Regions from separate parts of the Homo sapiens genome. Here regions 2 and 3 are each linked to region 1. Evidence: fine-mapped expression QTL. A gene starts in region 1. Each other region holds a variant in brackets. All regions are shown on one strand. Distances are from middle to middle.

Evidence for each region. PIP is the estimated chance that this variant, and not a neighbour inherited with it, causes the effect.
Region 2: its variant is the best candidate, but not a certain one, in a credible set for the expression of TGFBI in whole blood (INTERVAL, PIP 0.62).
Region 3: its variant is the best candidate, but not a certain one, in a credible set for the expression of TGFBI in liver (GTEx, PIP 0.65).

Annotation. Positions count from the first base shown.
Region 1 is chr5:136,026,930-136,032,653 of GRCh38, reverse strand. TGFBI (transforming growth factor beta induced) reads right to left here and starts at 3,666. Exons shown (of 17, transcript NM_000358.3): 1 at 3,465-3,666. The coding sequence starts at 3,598. RefSeq lists an enhancer at 1,380-1,449.
Region 2 is chr5:135,896,819-135,902,542 of GRCh38, reverse strand. No RefSeq gene overlaps it. Among named protein-coding and RNA genes, the nearest start is that of IL9, 3.8 kb to the right of the region's middle. The variant T/C (reference allele first, on the strand shown) is at 2,864.
Region 3 is chr5:136,981,184-136,986,907 of GRCh38, reverse strand. It overlaps SPOCK1 (SPARC (osteonectin), cwcv and kazal like domains proteoglycan 1), which reads left to right. Exons shown (of 11, transcript NM_004598.4): 9 at 1,706-1,768. Among named protein-coding and RNA genes, the nearest start is that of CTB-1I21.1, 250 kb to the right of the region's middle. The variant C/TAATACAGAATTATTC (reference allele first, on the strand shown) is at 2,524.

The DNA.
Region 1 (5,724 bases):
AATACTGAGGGCTTTCACAAGACCTCCAAGCTCAGAGAACTTCAGGTATCACCCAAAGGATGAAGTATTTCTTTAACATCAATTTCCCTGTTACTTTAAGAATGCCATCCACAGACATCACTTGATGTGCAGCGTATTTGTTAAGAAGACACCAATATTGCAGTAAAAACTACACCTACTGTCCCCATCATGATTCCTCTGCAGGAACTTGAACAATTCTCAAATATTCAGAGTCAGGCTTTTGGGTGGGAGTCCATTCTGCCCCTTCATTTCTCTGCCCTGTCTCTTCTGCGGTGATATGACTGTCACCTCTTGGCCAGTTTTTTGTTCAACAGGTGAAAGTGAGTGGGCCCAGGAGGGACAATGAGCATTAATGAATCCATGTAAGGATCTAGGGACAAGAGAAGTGAAGGCTGGAGAAGGGACCACAGCCAGCAGAGGCCCATGCCTCCCTAGTCCTAGCTGGGCCTGACCAAATCCTCCAGATTTCTGAATACCTGGTTTCTGTTTGCTGCCTAGGATTCACAGGTTAGACAGTCCCTGAATAACCCCTGAAGAGTCCTTGCTGGCCATACTCCAGCCCCCGGTCCTATTTATTGTTACAGAATCCCAGAAGCTCTTCAATCTGATCAAGCAGGAAACAATTACTGTCAATGAATTCCCTGCCACTTTCCGTAGGCGTTTGGCGAATCTTCAGTGAGTCTCTTGTGGATGTGGCTCCAACATTCCTTTGCTGAATGTTTCCACTGCTGCTGTCCTTGTGGCAGCAGCAGAGGCTGGGGGCGGCTGTGACCCTCTCCTTCTCACATCGGGGAGTGTGGGTGGGCTGTGTACATAGGAAGTTCATGCTGAAGCTTAATTGAAATGAGCAAGTTGCTTCTGGGCCTCAAGAATAACAGCATTGATGTTCAGCTTAGATTTGAAAACCAAGTGCTTCAGGAAATTCAGTTCAGTTTTTGGTGGTTGATGTTTGGAAGTGTGATTGTATTTTTACTTCTCTTTCAGTATTATTTTTCCCCTTCCCTATAGCAACACAGATATAGCTGGGAGTCAAGAGACCATATCATAGTTATTACTCTCCCAACAGCATTCTGTGTCTGAACTAAGTCACTCTCTACCTCACTAAGCTGCAGTTTCACCTCCTGTAAAATGGGAACATGAACAGTAGATCTCACTGTGTTGTGGTGAGGTCGAAAGCAAAAGCGGCAATCGAGTGCTGCGCACAAGCAAGGCACAGCTGTTATTTCTTCCTTCATATCAGGCAGCACGCTACAATTCCTTAAAATAGCAAAGTTTTCCTTCCCTTTCTAACAGTTTTCACTTTGAATGAAAGGCTGGAGCTAGAACAACGTTATCCATTTGCACAAGGCGCCACAGCCCTGTGTGCCAGGCCAGGCAGCCCTGTGGCATTAACAGGGACAGTTAGATCAGAGTAAATACAACTGTGCCTGCAACCATTTTGCCATGGTTCATGTGCCTGCGCATCCAGATTCTACTGGGACAGGGGTGCTCCTGTGACTTCTTAGATTACTCTGCCCATCACAGATTACAATAGGCCTTTCCAGCTGTGCTGCAGGAAGCTAATTAAGAGGCTTTGCCTGCAGGGGTATGGTGGGGAAGTTGATCTAATATCTGGAACTCATAATCAAGAGCATCTGCATTTAAGAAAAAAACCCTGTTTTCCAGCTGGTCAGCACTCTTCTGGGCTCTGAAGGGAAAGAGGTTTGCTGTAAAGATGGCTCTTGATGGAAAGCCCTCAATACCTTTGAGGATCCTTCACTGTGGCTGTGCAGAGAGATGCCCTTACAGGTGACACTGTTGCAGGGCATGCTATAAGGATCTTCTCCTGACTTAGTGGCGAAGATACAGAAGAAATAGAACCCTCCTAGGCAAATTGAGGCACCCAAACATAACACAATTCATTGGCAGGAAAGGCAGAGAGACCAACGGAGAGGTGGGCAGAGATAATAAAAATGCCAGGTGCTTGCATTTTGATGTTGAGGCCTCATATCCCTCTCATCTTTCTGACATCCCCCCTCACTCTATTCTGCACACTGCCCAAGTCAAAGCTGATTCTCCCACTTCCAGAAAGACCCCAGGATATCCCCAGTATTCTCCTCTTTCCAGGAGGGTGTTGAGGTTGCAGCCAGGCCTGGTTTGATTTCACTCTGCAGGGTGGCCAGATGTGCTCCCAGCAGGCCCTCTCCGCCAGAGCCCCAAACTCCTGAAAGGCCTAGACCATAAAGCCACAAGTAGAGGAAACAAGAGCAACTATGCCCTACAAGGGGCAGCCTGTACCCGTACCCAGAGCACTCCTAGTGCAAGGAGCCAAGACTTTCAGGGCCTGTGAAGTCAACTCTATCACCCCCAACAATGAGTTTTGATTTGAGCACAGATCTGCCCAGTCTCTTGGAGGTTTGGGCATTGCTTGTGGGTGTGAACGCCAGACCCCGATGGTATTTAGGCTTCCTCTGAGGAGTCACTACAAGATTCTACTCATATATAGTTTTACCTAGTTATGAAAAAGAAGTTGGTGCAACCAGGTAGGCTGGAAGCTGCAGCAAAGCCTGGGTATTTGTGACGCAGGTATGGCCTGGTTTTTGAGGTAGAAATGTTGCCTGCCTCTGCCTGGGTCAGTATTAGGGCCACTATCAGACCAGACCTTCTGCTTGAGTTTGTCTCCTAAAGCCAACACATCTTCAGGGTCTCAAAGGAATTCCTGCAATGATAGTGTCCTACATTTACAAACCCAGCTATTACTTTAAGACAGACTCCAATCCTGGCTCCAGTGCACACTTCAGGACTGTGGGAAAGTGGAACCACTCAGGACTCAGTTTCCCCATTTGAACAGTGTGTGTGAGGGCCCAGTGCATTCTCCTGCTCTTCATCGGGCAGGACAAGAAGTGCCACATTGCCCTTGCTGTACCCAGAGAGCAGTGTCGGGTGCCAGCAGTGTCTGAGTGCAGGGCCTGGCCAGGAGCACAGGAGCCTGGGGCACCTTAGATGCTGCCACCGTGTGTGGCCCAGGTTCTTGTCTGGAGTCGCTGGCCGGGGGCCTGGCTGGGTTGGAATAGGTGTACTGCTGGGTGGGCTTTGCCCTTGGCACCCTCCCACGGTGATTATGGCCAAAGAGTTGCCATTTCCCCCTTTCTGCAGTGGCTGGGAGGAGAAGCTGAAAGCGCTGTCCGTCTCAGGCTCTTGGCCTGCGTCGAAAGTCTCTGGTCCACTTCCCCACTCCCTTCTACAAAGCGGCGGCCTCCCGCTTTCCCTCCATGGTCCTCCACCTCCCTCCCTCTCTCCTTCCACCGCGTGCAGGGCTGGTGTCCGAGCGCTCCATGCTGCAAGGTTTTTAGTTCGGGCTTTGTCCCCTGCGCCCCCAGCCCAGTTCAATGCCCCCAGCGGCTTGCGCTCCGAGCCCCGACTACCTGACCTTCCGCAGCCCCTGGCCAGGCGGCTCGGCTTACCCGTGCTGGCGGCCCCGGAGCCTGCTGTGCTGCAGCACCAGCTGGTAGGGCGACTTGGCGGGACCCGCCAGGGTCGCGGCGGGGCCCAGGGCCAGAGCCAGGGCGAGAGCCAGCAGCCGCACGAAGAGCGCCATGGAGCGGGACGACGCGCACCGAGCGAGCTAGCGACCGACGGGCAAGCGGGCGGCTCCAGGGAAGTGAGAGCGCCTCCGCCGCCCGGGCCAGGTTAAGTAAGCTGCGAGCGGGAGGGAGCGGACGCCAGGGGCGGGGAAGCTGGGCCGGCCCGTGCAAGGAGGGCGGGCCGCCTGGCGCCTCCCAACCCGTGCGCCCCTGGCTGCCCTGGGCACCCACCCGCTCCCGCACTGTGCCCGTGCTCAGTTTTCCCAGCCCTTGCCCTCACTGCCAGCCCTCCCTCCCTCTCTCCCTCGCCACAGTCTTCCTCAAACCAAGGGTATAGGTCCCTTAGGCCTCCTGTGGCTGCTTCCAAATGGGGACCTTGGGACTGAGGGACAGCTGTCTCGGGGGCTTCGGTCCTGCATGCTGGGGGCCCGAAGATTCCCTCACTGATCTTGAGGCTACAAAACACTGCAGGGAGGGGTGAGGGGAGGCAGTGCTGATTCCCAGAACACCATGGCCCATCAGACTTGTTTCTGCACCCCAGGAGCTGACCACCCTCCCCAGCTCCTCAATCTCTAATCCCTCCACCCCCACCCCACCTGTCATGCTCATTGAAAGACAGATGAGTAAATCGTGTGATCCACAGAAACGCCAAAAATGTGGGGCAGGTTTTGTTGGGCTCTAAGCTGCTTTTGGAGCCCGTGGGGAAGGGTGGGGTCCTCACCTTGGTACTAATTCATTCCCTTCTTCAGTAAACATCTCTGCAACAGTACCTGCCAGATAGATTCTGCAAAGGCAAGAGTCCTGCCCTGGAGGAGCTCAAGGCAGGTAAACAAATTGTCACATGGTAAAGAGGTGATACTTACCCAAGCATCTATTAATCACCTGTCAGTTACTTGGCACTGCTAGCCCTGGGGAGACACAGATGGATTAATAGAATGAGTGAGACCTAAGCCCTTTGTGAAAAAGCTCCAATTTGGGAAGATCCGTAGCCCAAGCCAATGATGTTCCATGAAGAGTAGCTGGGGCTTTGGGAGCTAAGAAGAGGCACCTGGCCCTGACAGGGTGATACCTGCTCTGAGGCCTGAAAGATGAAAATGAGTTAATCAGGTAAACTGAGGCATGCATTCACGAAACTCAAGTTATCTGGTTGGCTGAAGCACAGGGAGGTGGAGTCAAGGGTAGGGAAGAAGGGGAGGAAGGTAGCAGGGCCCAGACTCCAGCTAAGAGCCTAGCGGGTGATGGGTGGAGGCAAGTGACATGGCCAGTGTCATGAGAGGCTTAAGGAGGCAAGAAGAACAGGTAACCAGGAAGGGACCATGGGAGAGCTTGAACTATGGTGGTAGAGGCAGAGATGGGGAAGGCTGGGCAAATGTGAGGGGTGTAGGAGGTAATAGTCTCAATAGAATTTGGAGTCTGTATACAGGGAGAAGGGGAGAAAGGAGAGTCAAGGATATTGTAGGGTGTTTGTGGTCTGGACATTGCAGCAGGTGATGGTGCCATGTTCAGAATGAGGCACATGCAGAGTGCAGGCTTGCCAGGTAGATGAGTGGTTTGGGACACCCTGAGTCTGAGGTGCTTATGACTCATCCTGGTGAAGCATCCCATGAGGATAAAGCTGGATATGAGGATCGGGGGCTTGAGTGAGGGACGCGGGATGAAGATTCACACCTGGGAGTCATCCTCCAGTGACAGAAGAGCCCAGGAAGTAGAGAATGTGGGGTTGTAGTCAAGGAGGGGTATCCTAGTAGGAGGGCGCTGCTCAAAGTGAGGAATGCTGCCAACAAGACAGATCTGAATGGCTTTCACTGTGTCAGAAGCAGAGAGGCCACTGGGGACTTGGCTGTGGAGAGCAGATGGCCAAAGCCCGAATATGGTGGTTTGATGGAGAGATGAGTAGCATGTAGAAGCTTGTCTGAGAAGGGAAGGGGCGAGTTAGGATGGCAGCCAGGGAAAGAAAAAGACAAGCGGGGCTTGGAGAGGTTAGAACTCTGGTAGAAAGAAGGTGGGAAGGAGAAGGGAGAGAGTGTGGGCACTGGAGGAGGGCCTACTGAGAGCATAAAGCAACTGAGGGCCTGCATGGGGAGTGATCAAGCTAGTGGAGAGGAGGGAACAGGTGTATGGGAGATTTTAGTGGTAGCAT
Region 2 (5,724 bases), 130 kb after region 1:
CATTCTTAAACGTGACTAATGGGATTATTATAAATTATAAATTCTATTATTATATGTTAGAACATATTTCTGGAGGACAGTTTGGCAAAACGTATTGAGAGTGAAAGGGTTGCAAATACTTGACCATTCATTCCAAATGTAGGATTTATATTGTCATGAGTGGACGTGAGCCCTGGAACTGGGCAGTCATCTTATAGCCCCAAGGGGAGGGAAGTCAACCCACAGAGTGGCAAAGCAGCCTGTCCACAAGATCTCAGAGCTGCAGATCCGACCACCCCAGGACCCACCGTATCCACAGATGCAGTGTTTTGTGAGATGGCAAATTTCCTTATCACTCCAGTCAGTGTTAACTGGGGTTTTGTGATTTGTGGTCAATGCAATCTTGATGACACAGGGCTCTGTCCTTCCGTTCAGAACTTCTAGCCTCATCTTCCACTTCTTCCCAACAGCCACTTCTGCAGTAGTCAGGCTGCTTCCAACCCTGTCAACACCTTGATTTGCACTTCTGGTTCCAAGATTGTGCGAGAATAAATTTCCGTGGCTTTAAGTCTCCCAGTTTGTATACTTTGTGATGGCAGCCCCAGGACACAGATATAGCTGAGGCCTAGAATCCACCTCCCTCTTCCCCAAAGGCATACTTTGATTTTCTGCTTGTATTAAGTAGACTTGGAGTACAGCCTATAGAGTATCGGTCAACAGAAGTGGAGATTGATTTATGGCCTTGCAGATAAGAACACAGGCTCTGGGGTCTGGTAAATCTCATTCAAGTTGCCAGCTGTGTGTCTATGGCAACTCTCCTAGCTTCTCTGAGCTTCCATTTGGATATCTACAAATAGGGTTAATAAAGATTGTTGAGGGGGCTGAGTGAGATGATATATATAAAGTGCTTAATAAGTTATCTTGTGCACAGGAAGATTTAACAAATTCTAATGCCTTAAGGCTCCAGTGTAATCCAGAACAACAGTTCTCATCCTCCCTTAATTAGATGGACATCAATGAATTGGCCACAGCAAAGGGTGGGGAGTTGGGGGAGTCCCATAGTCTCTGAGAAATACAGGGGCATGTCTCAAGTAATGGTGGACTATGCCAATGGGAGGATGTGAAATTCCATTTACAAGGATAGCCCAGATTGTTATTAACCAACAACAGTGAGGAAAGAGAAGTGAGAGGAAGGAGGAAAGAAATAGATCCTAGGTCTTGGAGCTCAGAGAAAACTGTGTGGGGCCACACAGGGAACAGTAGCTTCCAAGGGCAGCAGACACAGGGTTTGCTCAGGCAGGATGTGAGGGAAGGGGTCCTGGGTTCCCCTTCCACGGAGAGAAGACCCAACCGAAGGACAGCATCACCAGTGGGGCTTACCCCATCATGCTTACTTAGAAAGTAGTGATCTAGAAATAACTACTTGATTAGGAAATTAGCACTTGAGGATTCTCATAACTAGTTACCTCTTGGCTGCTTGGAGTAAAAGGCAGAACAGGTTTTACTTGGAAATGCAGTGCCTTTTTTTTTTTTTTTTGGTCATTTTATGCTGTGCCTTCCTAGAACACATAACCATTTTGTTTTATTCCTAGAGAAATAATCCATGACATATGAGCTTTTATCACAAAATAAAAACATCAAACTTTATCTTTGGAACAAAATAAATGGTTGATCATTGTCTTTTGTCATTTATTGTAAAATATGTTATCTATGATAACTCTTGGTATGCATCTCACTCTAATCTTGATATTTAAAATAGGTGAGTAATTGATTTCTGAGCGTGGTGTATTTGCTCTGTAGCTTATATGCATACTTACATTTTGATACTGAAAGAAATCCTAGGAGTTAAACCTCAAAAGTCATAGACTTTGCCTAGATAAACATCTGCTGTTTTAATGGTATTTTGAACTGCAGAGCTACCGTTTAACAACCCTGTATTCTTTTCTTTTTTATAACTGAGTGGGTGGGGAAATGGGAAAGAATTCTAAAGAACCAGTCACCTCACCTGTCTCCTTCTCTCTGTTTCATCCTTTGCAGAGGAGCTCCTGCACCACGCATGCCTTCCTCATGCAGTTAGTATAAGAGTCCAAAGAAAGAAGCGGTTGAAAAGCACTTCAGAAATTCTCAAACCCTGCACCAATGTAAGGAACTACAGAACTGCAGGAGGCTTTACTCCCTTGTTGGTTAATCACTTTTCAAATGTGTTCCTTGTTCAGGTAAATGTGACATCTGCTTTTTGTTTGTTACCTGTCTACTGGGAACCATGTGTTGGTCATTTCATCAGTAACACAAATTTAATAAATGTTCACAAAATTAAATGTATTAGTCATTTATTCATTTAACCAGGAATTCCTGAGCACTCTGTATAGACTATGCCCTGGGAATAGTGATGAGCAAGAGAGTCCGTTGTAGTGTCCATTGTCATGGAACTGACATTCTCCTGGGAGAACCAGACACTGAAAGAGGCACAGGCAGATGGCAGTGATTGCTATGGTCAGAGAAGGTCTTGCTGAGGAGGTTGTAGTTGAGCTGAAAACTAAATGATGAGAACAGGTCACGTAGGGAGGAGCTGAGGAAGGAGCCAGCAGGCCAAGCTTAGCAAGGGTAAAGGCCTGGAGGATGGAAATGAAAAGAAACTGATGTGACGGGAGGGTAGTAATGAGGGGGTATCAAAGAGCGAGGCACCTGGACCAGACCAGACCACATTTCCAAACAGAAACATGCCTCATTCCTGAGAGTATATCCCAAATGGAGCACTCCTCTCTTTCATGAGGAAGGGCTGGGTGAAGGCTTACATTCCTTTCTCTAAGTGAGTGAGCACTGGGGGTGCATTGGTGCATGGAAAGGGTAAGTAACCTGCCCAAGGAACACCAGTGGCCATGGA[T/C]CACTTGACCCTGAGCCAGCTCCTGAGGGTAGCAGGGAAGGTGGGTGACCCAAGGCCTGCTGGTCAAGCCAAGACTTAACTTGTTAATTCATTCACTTTTCTCCTAACTTCAAAATGTGGGACTTTTCCTAGTAAACCAGAGCCTGCCTGAGATATCTTTGCTGCAGCTACCGGGTTTCATTGAGAGAAGATCTTTGGTTCATTGGACCAGCGAGCTCACTCCACAAAAAGCCTCAGGAAATGGCAGGCCCCCAACACTTCGGATAATCTGGCAGTCTGTGGCCCAGGTCCCCTGCTCCCTTCCCTCTGTACAGATACCTGACCTAAATAACCAGATGGGGAAAGGGAGAAGAGACACCTGAGCAACCAACCCCTAGCTCTACCCTTCCCAGGACTGGAGGATAATAGTTGATGTCTTCAGAAAATGTGGGGTGGGGTGTGGGAACTCAGCCAGGGGGTGGCCAACTTTTCCTGTAAAGGGGCCAGATAATAAATGTTTAGGCTTTACGGGCTACATACGGTCTCTATCACACATGCTTGTTTTTATTTGTTAATTATTTCTTTATAAACTTTAACCCTCTGAACCCTTAAAAAGGTAAACACTGTTCTTAGCTTGTAGACCTTACCTTCAACCTGAAAAGTGGATTACAGTTTGTTGACCGCTAACCTCGGCTGCTTTGCCCTAACAAACTTCAAACCGGATGCCACTTAAACCAAGTTAGGGATGGAGCAGCTGTTTCTTTTAATCTCTATGGGAGTACCCTGAGGGGAGCCTTCACTGACAACTGCATCCCTAGATCCCCATTCCCACTTTCCACATCACCATCCTCACTTACGAGTGAGTGAGAACTGACAACTGCAACTGCATCCCTAGATCCCCATTCCCACTTTCCACATCACCATCCTCACTTACGGTCAGGAAATGGAAGCTGGGAGAGGCCAAGCAATCCCCCAAGGCCATGGAGCTAGCAAGTGATAGAGGCAGGACTTGAACTCAGGCATTCTGATTCTAGAGTCACCGGTCTTAACCACTGCACTGTACTATCCCCTGCTAGAAACTAGAGCTGTGGCTTTCTCTTCTTGGGCAAAGCCCCCATCTGTACAACAGGAGGGGTGGGGTGGTGTTTTCCTCAATATGAAAGGCATACCCGATGGCAGGTGAAATGATTTCCACGGTTCACACAGAGAGCATCAGATAATATTGATTCACAGAATGAAAAGATGATTGCCTTTTCACATCTCTCTCAAGTCTTCCAATAATGTCAGGGAAGGAGGTTTAGTCTGATGGTAATGTATCTTTAAAATCTCTCCAAAGCATGCTAATTTTCTTTTCTTTTCTTTTTAAACAAGAACAGGTTTTATAACTCAGGATCCTCAGTAGGCAGTGATAGCTAGCTAGAATTTTAGTATCACTGTTGTACTATTATTATTACTTCTCTTGTTAGTCTCATGGTTTTATTTTTTATTGCCTTTCTGAATATTTGCTATTTATGAAAAATGTTAGTGTTGCCATTGCTGTAATTCTCTTGTCCATTTCTTCATAGTTATAATATTGCTGCTGAAGCTCCTGCCATCACACCCAAATTGGAATTAAGGGGAAAGACAGGGTTCAGCCACTTTTGTCTCCTATTACCAGGAAAGCAAAATAATTTTACATACTTTGCATTGATCGAAACATGCTGCATGGCTACATGTAGCAGCAAAAGAGGCTGAAAATGTGGGTGTTTGGCTGGATACATTGGTACCCCAAACTAATCAGAATTCTACCATCAAGAAAAAGGCATACATCCAGTGCTTTGTAACAAAAGTGTTTGCCACAGGCTGGGAATCCTTTGAGTTTTCTCTTCAGTGTCTGCAAAGAGCAGGGATGGAAGTCAGAGATGTGGGATGGCTTAAGGGAATTTAGCAAAACACCTGTTTCTCTTTACCTTGTTTACCACCAAGACACTCCCTTCCCCATAGTGCAGTGGAACACTGACGAGCCATCATCACTCCTAAGAAACAATACAAAATGAAAAAAAACAGTATTGCCATACTCTTACAGTGGAGGCGAGGAAATCTTATGAGTTTGTCCCCACTGGCTATTATAGTTCAGAGTGCTAAGCTAAAGAACCCCTCACCTTTTCAATCTACTGTGTAGAAGCTATATTTACTTACCTGCACATACCTCCAAATATGTATCCTAGAAATCAGATTTGAAATCTTATAAATCCCAGAAGTAGGAAGTTCGTATTTCAAGAACTACTTTTCAAATTAGTGTTTTAATTCAACAAGCATTTAGTGAGTGCCCACAGTTCCCCAGGCACCTCCTTAAGTGCTGAGAATATAGGGGTGAACTGGACCCATAAAGCCCTGGAGTATATATCCTGGTGGGAGAGGCAGATAAAAGATCTGCAGAAAAACAGGAGTTCAGGAGGATTAAGAGCTGAAATCAGGAGGCAGACTTCTGGGCTTGAATACAAATTCTGCGGCTTCCTGGCTTTGTGGTTTTGGGCAAATTACCTGCCTCTCTATGCCTCAGTTTCTCCATCTGTAAGATAATAAGAATAATTATAGTACTTCATAGAGTTACACTGAGATTGCTTTTTTGACTCATAGTGATTAAACACAGCCATACTGAAGGGCCAGGAAGCTAAGATGTAGACAGTGTTTTAAAGGGTAAAAAATGGTGATGACAAATTACTCCCCACCTCATTTGGCAGCCGAGTGTATTACATGGCTTAATGCATGTAAAGTACTTAGAAATGTTGCTAGTATGGTCAGGCCCAGTGGCTCATGCCTGTAATCCCAGAACTTTGGGAGGCCAAGGCGGGCGGATCACGAGGTCAGGAGTTCAAGACCAGCCTGGCCAACATAGTGAA
Region 3 (5,724 bases), 950 kb before region 1:
TTTATCCAATTAAAAACAATTCCTATTGGTAATTTTTAAGTATCAGGAAAAATTAATCAAATAAAAATCAATAGCTGTATAATATGGAATCATTTTGTTTTAGAACAGGATCTATCAACCCATGGTGTTAATTTTGAAATTTTGTTCTAACAATTATTATACTTCCCTTGTATTTATTATTGCTACCATTGTAACTGAAATAGGTGTTTTTTTGCACTATATTCCCTCCCTGGTGGTTTCAACATTAATTTTGTTCTCAACCACCTTACTAAAATCTTGCTTTGTTTCTAAGTTATTCTGGTTGGTTTGCTTAGATTTTTCGGGTGTGCAATCATATCATCTGCAAATAGTGATAATTTTTCTCTTCATTTTCAATTTTTATACCTCATTTTTCTTTTCTAATTACATCTGTTAGTACCTAAAATCAATGTTAAGATAATAGCCATTTAAAAATTTTAGTAGTGTAAATACTTGTAGTGATTCTCAGCATTAAGACTAGTGATAGTTTTAGGTTTGAGTTCGTATTGTAACATGTGATTTTTAGCATGGTTTCCTTACAACACAGAGCCTATGTGTTAATGCTTGCCTGGAGGTAACAGTGCCAGAGCTGGTCACCTGGCCACATGGGACATCTCTGGATAGACTGCCCTTACTCTTGCAGTTGCTGAAAGCCAGAACCCCTTCCTGTGGCACAGCATCCAGGAAATGCTACCTTTTATAATCCAGATGAAATTTGTTTCTCCTTTACTCTGAAAGCATCTTAAAACAAGAAGTCAACAAAATGTATTTTACAAGCAGTTTCTCTCATGGAACAAGCAGCAAGACCAGGTAGCATTGTGCAGTCTACAGGGTAAGAGTTGTAAATGGTTGCTTAGATACTTTATATGCAAGTGTGGGGCCTGCAGAAAGAGGCAGTATCAGCCAAAGATAAGAACTCAGAGAACCAGAACTCCTCTGCCAAGGACAGGATGAACCATGAACAAATAGCAGAACTCCCAGAGCCACAAGGTCTGCAAAGGCAAATCATGGTAAAACTCTGAAGAATGAATGAGGTCACTTTTCATTTTGCTTAGAATGAAACTAACTTCTTTTCTATGACATGCATTTTGCCGCTGAGGACCCAGAGGCTGGGACAGGTGAATTCAGCTAGGAGGTGGCAGAGCCTAGATACAAAGTCTCATCAGTGCTTCTCCAGATCTCTTCTGTATCTTCATAGTTGTCCCTCAAAGCCTATTTTACTTTCCTGGGGGTGGTGAGGTCTGAAGTAACCATTCCTATCCATCCTTTCCTACAGGAAAACCTAGGCTATATAAGTATTTGTCACCTCTGGTTAGTTCGTCTGTGGATTCAGAACACTTCCCCACTAATAAGCCTTGGCTGATTACTTGCTTCCTGATAGAAAGGAAAAAGTCCATTACACCACCTATTAGATACTTGGTATTTGCTTGAGTTGGTACTAGAAAGAAAAATTTCTATGCAATGCAAGTGGCCCCCAAATACTATTTTAAGTGCATTGTGGTATGAGGTTTGTTTTTTAACTAGTAACACTAATGGCCCGAATTTGTTTTCTTGCATAGTAACAGCATATGGAACAATTCCACTCCCAGGTGTGTCATTGTCTACATTTCACATCAAGAGTGAAGTCAATCATTAGCGATTATACTCCATACCATCTGGAAGCTGACTTTCAGAAATTATTTTTTAGGTCTCCCTTGCCAGAATGAAATGAACAGAATTCAGAAGCTGAGTAAGGGGAAAAGCCTGTTGGGTAAGTACAATTTCTTGCCACTCATTTAAACAACTAATTAAGCCAGCCATGTCCCTTGTAATGATCAGCATGGCAATGGTTATTCAATTAGGGCTAGTGTTTCATGAAAGAAATGCCTTGTTTTAACCCCAGGCAGAGCTCTTCCAGGCAGCTGGACATAAACAGAGGACTGGCTGGTTGAAAACTGCTGTGTGTTCCTTCGGCAGGAAGAGAGGTCAGCCAGGGCCGAAGTCCAGCACCTTCCCCACTGCTAACTCCTCCCTGATCTTAGGCTAAAACAAATCTTGGCTTTTTCTAAGTAAGATCATTGAATGGTGCTCTCAAGTGCTCAAACTATAAGGTCTAAAAATTATAGCATTTCCTCCATTCCCCGGATAGGATTGTCTGTTGAAGGAGGCAGATGGGCTGTACTCTCTTCAGAATTTATCAAACAGGGTTGAACGACATGTATGTGCTTAAGCCTATTTCTACCTTCACCTAATCCCTCCAGGAAAGTATGCAGGCTGTTTGGACACCACGGAAGCAAGTGGGTTGAGTGAATGTGTGTTCCCCTAACATGCACAACTTGCAGTCCTCTCAAAGTGTCCCCTTTAGCTCCAAGCCTGCCTTTCTCCAGCACGTGGAGGAAGTCCTGGCATTTGTCATAGAAACACTGGCCATTCTCATTGGTTTGCTGAAGAAAGGAGGAGCCTGCTTTGCTTTCCTTGCTTTTAAAAAAAGAGGTGTCAGCTGCAACACAGTAATACAGAATTATT[C/TAATACAGAATTATTC]CCGTGAAGCATTCAGAGGCAGATGCATTCCCCAAGCAGCCTGCCATTTCAGAAGTTTCTCTATTCATTTGAAGGAAATGAATAGAGAAGGAAATGGGCAAGTTTTCTTGCAGATTGTCAAATGTAGGCAGTCTATGAATTCCGGTGATTTTCTTCTCTTAGGATTTTTTGAGTTATTTCAAAATGCATGTAGACTTCCCCAAAGTTGTCAGGATTTCGAACTCTTTAGGCCTACATTCTTCTGCTGAGTAAAAGGACATAAAGATATATTTCTGGTCTGAAGGCAAAGTGGCTGGATCCCTCCTCCATAGGATTTTCTAGTGCAAAGACTTGTGTTTGTTTATTGATCTCATTTCTCCATGTGGGATATTATTTTGAGTGACGTACCTATGATCTGCAGGTAGTTGTAGAATTAGTACATTGCTGTTTATTAAAACATACATTGCCTCATTGGTAAGGGTCACCTGTGATAAGATGTCTCATTTACCCCAGTGCACATGAATGAAATGCCTACCTTTCTGTTAAAATAAATCCCATTTTGTTTTAAAGCTTGCTTTATCACATTTCCCACATATGGAGATTACTCCAGCTGACTCAGAAAAAATGCCATTTGCTTACAAATTCTTTATGTAGTCAGGGGTATACAGAGTCAAATAAATAAAACAATCAACAAATTATTATCAGCTATAATTATTGCATTGTAGTTTTAGAGCAGCACCTGCTTCTTACCAACCCAGGGCCTCAGCCCATTTTTTTTTTTTTTTTGGTCCAAGGAGGAGCCAGCTCTCTACATGTTCACTTTCTCTGCAGTCCTTGATTGAGAATCTGTTCACAAATCTCTTTTTGGGCTACTGACCGCATCTACATTTTCCTTCTTTTCTATCTACTGTTCTTTGAAAACTGATAGCATGCAATGGCGTACACTCCTTAATGAGAGGGTGGATACCACTAAGCTTCTAACTGTGGCATCAGCAGCCTTTCCTAAGTGATAGACATGGTGTTCCATGGTCTCATTTAATCTCTGAGAATATGATCATCTTGGTATAGCCTGGTGAGTAGCATGTTCTAGACTAGACCCTAGAGTCACCTGGGTCTGGGTTGAAGTCTTGGTTCAAAATAGGAGAAATCTGTCCCTCCCATGCCACACTTTTATTCTGGGATTGTTCCACTAAATAAAAGGCAAATTTGAAAATGTAAGCACGCTCACAAAATCAGAAATTAAATTAGGGCATAGAAAGCTACAGTGGAAGGCAGGAACCTCTGTTTTCAGGAGGCTGATGTAGATGGTGTTACCACCCAGGTTACACAAAGAGGAAGAATTCTTCCATAGAAGATGCACACTATCAAGAAACACACCTACCCTGTAAGGAAAACCAAAACTAAAAACTATTATAAATAAAGATTACCCACAGTACAATGAGAATCAGTATCTTCAAAGTGCCAAGGGGAAATAATTATGAACCTACAATTTAAAATTTATCCCAGTGATCATTCAAGTGTGATGACAGAGGTACTCTGGTACTCTGAAACCATCTAAGATTCAGTCAGCTTACTAACCCCAGACTCACTTAAATATCACTAAAGGATTTATTCTACCAAACAAATGATCCCAGAAAGAACTATTCAGATGCAATAATGAAAAAGAAATGACAATTCTGCTAAGACCAATAAAAATAGTTATATGGCAACCTGGAATTAAAATTCCAGACAATTGGGGGAAGTGAGAAAAAGGTGGTAAGAATGTGTTAAGCTTCTAGTTTGTTCATGAAAAAAAAAATCTGTATAGATTAACTGTAGATTTTACTAGGAAAAACTATGTTCCCCTGTGGAAAATATGAGTAACCACAAGAATATTAGAATATATGTTTTAAACCTATGGAAAAAAGACAAGGTATAAAGAAAACTTAGTAAGTAGGAAACAGATATGGTGGCAGAAATAAGAGTAAGCATTTCTGTAATCACAATATCTGTAATCACAATAAATGTGAACAGGTCAAACACATTTATTATTATTGATTAGTATTTTAAAGGAGAGTTATACAAAAATAATTCCACAGAAAGTTGAAATTAAATGAGGGTAAATACTCTTTTTTAAACAACATTAATATCTGACAAAGCAAATCTGTTTTTTATAATGCAATCATCTCGCTGAAATATCCCTTTTACCATATTATGCCATCAGTTGCTCTATAGACATGCCTTGCTTAATGACAGGGATAGGTTCTGAGAAATGTGTCATTAGGTGACTTTGTCATTGTGTAAACATCATAGAGTATACTCACACAGACCTAGATGGTATAGCCTATTGCTCCTAGGTATAAACCTGTACACCATTTTATCGTACTGAATACTACAGGCAATTGTAACACAATGGGAATTATTTTTATATCTAAACATAGAAAAGGCTAGTGAAAATATGGTGTTATAATGTTATGGAACCATTGTCACATATACAGTCTATTGTTGACTAAAACATCATTATGTGGCACATGACTATACTCATAACTTAAAATGGAATAGAACTGTAAGGGCGAATTATAGCCACAGTGGTTTTCAGAAACTTTGACATACCACTTCCTGAAACCTACAGTTCAAGTAGACTAAGATTTGTTAGCATTCATGCTTATATATGTATTCCTGAATCTAGGCATTGAATGTAGTCTTTCAAACATCTGCCACAGACCGTACCACAGAAGAAAACAAATTTCAAATAAATGATCACAGATCAAACTTACCGGCCACAACACAATACCAATAGAAGTAAAATATGAGATTACTAAACCCCCATACATTTGGTTTCATGAATAAAAATTGATCAAAGATGAAGAAAGAAAAATCTACAAAATATCTAGAAATGAAAGAAAATGAAAGCATGGTGTACCAAATACATGGGAAGCAACTAAGTGAAACTTCATAGCGTCAAATGCATTTATAAAAAAGGATCAAAATAAAATTAACTAGATGTAACTTAAACTATAGGAACAACACAAAGTGAATAAGATGAAAGCAGACAACAGTGAAGTAAAAATATTAAAATACCATATCAGAGATAGTTTTCTGAACAAATGAAATAGACAAACCTTTGACAATATGAAGAAGTAAAAAGGCTCAAATAGTGTCATGAATTTAAAAGTGGGATATAAGCTCAGTTATAGAAGAATACTGTAAACTTGTGGTTCTCAAACTTTAGTATATACCAGA